Regions from separate parts of the Homo sapiens genome. Here region 1 is linked to region 2. The links come from fine-mapping of genetic effects on gene expression. A gene starts in region 2. The other region holds a variant in brackets. All regions are shown on one strand. Distances are between the middles of the regions. Region 1 overlaps MTA1-DT (MTA1 divergent transcript). Region 2 holds the start of CRIP1 (cysteine rich protein 1).

Region 1 (2,958 bases), 70 kb before region 2:
CAGGGTTGGCCGCGTGGTCCCCCGGGCTTCCCACGCCCGATTCGAATTGTGACTCCGGCTGGCTCCGGACCGAGCCGAGGACGCTCCGGCACCACAGCAGGAGCCGCGCGGGCGGGGGCGCGGGGCGCGGAACGGGGCGCGGGGCGCCTGGGAGATGTAGTTCGCGGCCTTCCCCGGCGCACCAGACAATGCCCGACGCGGCCCCGCTGGAGAAACGCCTTCCTTGGCTTTGCAGAAACACCGCTTGCTATTAATACAGCAACGAATACAGCTTTAAAAACGCGCCCAGTGTCCTCCCTGGAATAACAGCTGTTAACATTACCTAAAGGTTATCCCAGATATTTCTAAATGTATATGGGGAGATAAAAGGATGTAATGGAAATACAGAAATACGTGTCGAGTTGCTACTTATAGACTTTTAAATATTTAAAGAAAAAAATTGCTAAAAGCAGATGAATGCTTCTTCACCTCAAGTTTAAAAGTCTCCTTACGATGGCCGGGCGCCGTGGCTCAGGCCTGTAATCCCGGCACTTTGGGAAGCCAAGGCAGGCAGATCGCTTGAGCTCAGGAGTTGGAGAACAGCCTGGGCAACAAAGGGAAGCTCCATCCATACTGAAGATACAAAAATCAGCCGGGCGTGGTGGTGCTCTCCTGTAGTCCCAGCTACTTGGGAGGCTGAGGTGGGAGGATCGCTTGAGCTCAGGAAGTCGAGGCTGCAGTGAGCCGAGATAGGCCCACTGCACTTGAGCCTGGGTGACAGAGTGAGACCCTGTCTCCAAAAAAAAAAAAAAAAAAGTCTTCTACGATTATTTTTAGAAATTACAAAAACATCAAGAGATGAGTGTGTTTGGTTTACAGCAGCAAAGCACGGTTCGGCTGAGGCGGCACCGGCTGACTTCTGCCTGTGAATGGTGAGGAACTGGCACTGACATTTCCATATCCCCTGGCAGGGCATTTCTTACCAGAAGATCAAGGCTCACCGCCAGTATTTGACCCACTGAAAGTCTTTGTTTTGATTTACATCTTTACTGGCTGGACTTAAGATCAGTTTTTGTTGTTGTTGTTAGACAGGGTCTTGCTCTGCCACCCACGCCGCAGTGCAGAGGTGCTATCTCGGCTCACTGCGAACTATGCCTCTCAGGCCTAAGCTATCCTCCTGCCTCAGCCTCTCAAGTAGCAGGGACTACAGGCATGCACCACCACGCCCCGCTAATTTTTATATTTTTCAGTAGAGATGGGTTTTCACTATGTTGCCCAGGCTGGTCTCAAACTCCTGGGTTCAAGTGACCTGCCCAAAGTGCTGGAACTTCAGAGCCAGAGCCCTGGTTTTATACACTTTATTATGTTCCCCTCCCTGCTAGATTGCAAACCCTCTGAGGGCAAAGGTGCTGTTTCCTTACCCTCCAAGGCCTAGAGTGGCCTGTAGCTTGAAGTAGATGTTTAACAAATAATCAATGAGTAAATTATTGTGTTAATCACTTTGTCTTGCTCTGAAATTATCTCAAGCCTTTCATCTCCAAGTAACTTGATATTCTGCCCTTTGCTGTTTATGACTTGATCCAGCCACGGTGCGATTTTGGTGCTTCCGGTTTGCTTGGCTCTTAACTCTTCCTCCCATCCTGCTGTTTTGTCGTCAAGCATTTGAATTCCTGATTGTTGAATTCATGCTGCTATGAAGCTCTGAAAGAAGTCCTGTGGAGTCCTCTTCTGTTTCTTTGGTTGCGTTTTCTTATTTATTTATTTATTTATTT[A/ATTT]TTTATTTTTTATTTTTGTTTCTTTGAGACGGAGTCTCACTGTGCCGCCCCCAGGCTGGAGTGCAGTGGTGTGGTCTCGGCTCCTGGGTTCATGCAATTCTCCTGCCTCAGCCTCCGGAGTAGCTGGGACTACAGGCACGCGCTACCACACCCAGTTAATTTTTTTGTATTTTTAGTAGAGATGAGGTTTCACTATGTTGACCAGGCTGGTCTCGAACTCCTGACCTCAGGTGATCCTCCTGCCTTGGCCTCCCAAAGTGCTGGGATTACAGGCGTGAGCCACCACGCTCAGCCCAGTTGTGTTTTCTTCCATACTGGGTTTCTCACCGGCCCCTCACACCCTCGATGACTTGTTTTTCTGTTGTTGAATGACATGGATGTGGTCACGTGCCACCTCTCAGCAATGCTCCCACCTCAGCCTCCGGGGATATGCCACTACTTCTGTAGTGCTTTCTGACGTGAAAGCTCTTTCCTGAATGTCTATTCGCTCTGCTACTAAGTGGATGGAGTGGATGGATTTTTTTTTTTTTTTTTTTTTTGGAGACGGAGTCTCGCTCTGTCGCCCAGGCTGGAGTGCAGTGGCATGATCTCGGCTCACTGCAAGCTCCGCTTCCTGGGTTCACGCCATTCTTCTGCCTCAGCCTCCGGAGTAGCTGGGACTACAGGCGCCCGCCACCACGCCCAGCTAATTTTTTCTATTTTTAGTAGAGACGGGGTTTCACCGTGTTAGCCAGGATGGTCTCGACCTCCTGCTCGTGATCCTCCCGCCTCAGCCTCCCAAAGTGCTGGGATTACAGGCGTGAGCCACCGCACCCAGCTGGATTCTTCTTAATTCTTTGTTTTTATTGTTTGACTCACCTGAGGTCTTTGGACTTTGCCTCTGAGCTGGCTTAAGGGCAATCCACCTTGTTCACTGGTCTGGAGTGGGGAGGCAGAGTATGGGTCGGCTGGAGGAGTGGGGCTCTGTGCTCTCTTTTGAGAGTTTACTAAACGTCACTCTGCATGGTGAGGGGTGTGTCCTCTCCGCTGGGGAGGCCTGGCTTGAATTTCAGATTGCCTCCCTGGGACACCAGACCCTGTGCTGTGCTCCCTCAGAAGGACAGCCTTGACTGTCTCCACTCCAGCAGTCAGTTCTCTCCACTCCCACTGGGAGAAGGAGCAAAGGCTGGTGTCTTCAGGAGGCTCCTCTCCAGGCTGGGGCCAGGGA
Region 2 (2,825 bases):
GACCACACACATGCTCGCGGGGACCCCAGAGACCCCTGATGGACACACCCATACGGGTATGTCCACGGGCACCAGGCACACACGTGTGCATCAGGCACTTGCCCTGCACCTCTGCACCCGGAGCACGTCATCCTGGTGGGGGTGTGGACAGCGGTGCTGGGCACCCTGGGGCTTGGGGGCAGCGCACGCCCCAGGGAAAGTGCAGTGACAGAGCCCCCGGCCTCCCCAATACTGTCCGGGCTCCCCTGGCCTCTCCCCCTTCTTGGTGCCTCTGCCTCTCCCTCTGCTTGTCTGCAGGTTTGTCCCACGATGCCCCACACTCAGTGGAGATGGCAGGTGGGCCCAGACCTCAGAGTGGGTTTCAAGGCTCATGGGCTGGAGAGTGGGGGTTCCAAGTTTGCAGGACAGGAGCGCACCCCTACTCTGGAAACCTTATCTCTGAGGTCTCAGAATGGGGGATGAGGAGGGCTCCAATGGGCCCCTGTGGAATGTCCTATCAGACCCCAGGACTTAGCCCCAGTCGGGGGACAGAACTGTGGCCTTAGAGGGGCGCCAGGAGGAGGGCAAGCAGGATGTGGCCTTGGGCTGGGTGTGCTGGTGTGGGGCTCTCTGGAGTGTGGCCTCTGTGCCAGACGCCTGTGCCTTGGCCGTCCTACAGCCCTGCTGCCCCTGCCCTCTCCCCAAGCTGGGGACTGGTGGCAGACAGGGCAGGGCAGGCGGCTTCTCTTCCTCTAAGTGCAGGCCTCGAGGTGCCGACAGGGGTGCGGTAGGATTCAGGGAAAGTGAGGTTGGGATCACAGGTGCAGTTAGGGCTCAGGGCCCGACAGCGGTAGGCCAGCGGCTCCTGGGGCCCAGGAGGATGGTCTCCAGCGCCCCCAGCGGGGACAGGGCCAGCACAGGCCCAGTGGAGATCGAGGGGAGATAAGGACGCTGGTTAACATGGCTGACAGGAGGGATGGTGGGTGGGGAGGAAGGGCAGCACCGCCCTTGTGCTGTGGGAGCTCCCAGGGAGCTCCATGCAGCATGGAGGTGAAGGGCCTGCAGAGAGAGGGCTCCCCTGCTCAGTGACAGGAGAGGGGGCTGACAGTGACCTGGGCTCCCTTCCTGAGGCTGGCCAGTCAGCTAGAGGGCTGACCCCAAAGCCCGAGGCCAGCGCAGCCCCCTTGGCCCTCCTGAATCTGGGGGGCGGGTGAGGCGGGACAGACTCCGCCTGGCACCGGGACCATCCTCCGCCTCAACTTTGCAGCGTACTTGGACCGCTCTGGCCGCCCTGGGCGCTACCCGCAGAGATAAGGGCCCCTCCCTGCGCCCGGTCCGGGCATCTCCGAGCCGGCCTGGGGGTGGCTGAACTCTCTTTTGCCGGCCGAAACCCCAGCCCCCGCAGCCCCCGCAGCCGATCGGTCCTCAAGCTACAGCTCCCCTCTCTGGGAGTCCCCGCTTTTGAATTCCCCGGGGATGTTCCCGCTGCGGTCCGATGGACCTCCCAGAGCAGCGGAGGTCAGGGGAGCTAGCAGAGGCGGGGACGTCCCTTGGGAGTGAGGGGACTGACAGGGGCGGCCTCGTAACCCTGCGTGGGATGGAAGGTCAGAGTGGGTTCCTCGGTGGGGGGCAACAGCGGGGGCTCTCCGGCAATTGTCCCCGACCCTCCGTCCTGGGGAGGGCAGGATCAGCGCGCGGGCTGCTTTGCATCTCTTTGCATTTTAGTGATGTTTGGTCCAGTCCTGGCCCGGGCAGATCTGGGGTTCGGGCGGGTGCCGGTGGGGTAGGGCTGGGGGTGGGAGCGGCGTTTCCTGCTGCGGGTGAGCCTTTTGCCTCGGAACTGGACCCGGGAGACATCACAGCGCTGGGCTAGGGGCGCGGCTTGAACTCGCCTAAAGAGCTGCGCCCTCTCAGTAAGTCCCCATGGCCCCCTGCCCCCCCGCGCTCCGTCCTCAGTCAGGCCCGGGTCCTGCCTGAAGGCGGGGGTGGACCAGATGATCTTTCTTGGGCCCTGGGCCTAGATTCGAGGTCCCCAGGGTCCAAGTCCTGGGTTCAGAGGGCGGGGCGCGAGGGGCGGGGTCTCCAAGGGGCGGGGTCCCGGGGTCCCTGAAAGGCGCGGACCAGGCCGGATCCACCCAGTCTCGCGCCTGCAGCCCGTGCCGCCCCAGCCGCTGCCGCCTGCACCGGACCCGGAGCCGTCATGCCCAAGTGTCCCAAGTGCAACAAGGAGGTGTACTTCGGTGAGCGCGCCCACACCGGCCCCGCGAGGAGGCGCCGCCGACGGGGCGACGAGGCTGGGGACCGCTCAGGAGGACCGGGGGCGCTGGGTCCCTGGGGCGGCGCCCCAGCCTGAAAACGCCTCAGCCTGGCCCGCCGCCTGCCCCGGGATGAGGGTGGAGGCCCCTGCGTCCGAGGGCCCTGGCGATCTCTGCCTGCTAGTGGTCTTGCTGTGCTCGGCGGGCTACCTCTGGCTCTGAGCCTCCCCGTCTCTGGGTCCTACGGTCTCTGCCGTTTCCTCTCAGGCGCGCCCTGAGTGGGGGACCCGCAGGGCTGGAAGGAACGCGGGGCTGGGGCCGCGCCCCCCAGCGCTAAGTGGAAACAGACGCGGAAACCGACGCCCGGGGCGCGATCCCGGGCGCCCGCCTCCCTGCCCCGCGCCCGCGCGCCCCGAGGGGAGGGAGGAAGTGGGAAGTCACCCCTGTCCCCGCCGAGAAGGGCTGTCGCAGGCTCCACCCTTGCCACCGCAGAGGCCCGGGGCTGAAAGCAGGCAGCCAGGCCCAGGCCCTGCTGACCTAAGCCGCGACCCCTGACCCTCGGCCTCGCCCTCTAGCCCCACCCAGCCTTCA

The links. PIP is the estimated chance that this variant, and not a neighbour inherited with it, causes the effect.
Region 1: its variant is fine-mapped to the expression of CRIP1 in whole blood (INTERVAL, PIP above 0.99).

Annotation. Positions count from the first base shown.
Region 1 is chr14:105,415,127-105,418,084 of GRCh38, forward strand. MTA1-DT (MTA1 divergent transcript) reads right to left here. Exons shown (of 2, transcript NR_125385.1): 2 at 2,455-2,958. Among named protein-coding and RNA genes, the nearest start is that of MTA1-DT, 3.1 kb to the right of the region's middle. RefSeq lists a silencer at 1-229 and an enhancer at 2,898-2,958. The variant A/ATTT (reference allele first, on the strand shown) is at 1,752.
Region 2 is chr14:105,485,081-105,487,905 of GRCh38, forward strand. CRIP1 (cysteine rich protein 1) reads left to right here and starts at 1,806. Exons shown (of 6, transcript NM_001311.5): 1 at 1,806-1,892; 2 at 2,119-2,219. The coding sequence starts at 2,180. RefSeq lists silencers at 2,026-2,075, 2,086-2,185, 2,236-2,365, 2,536-2,745.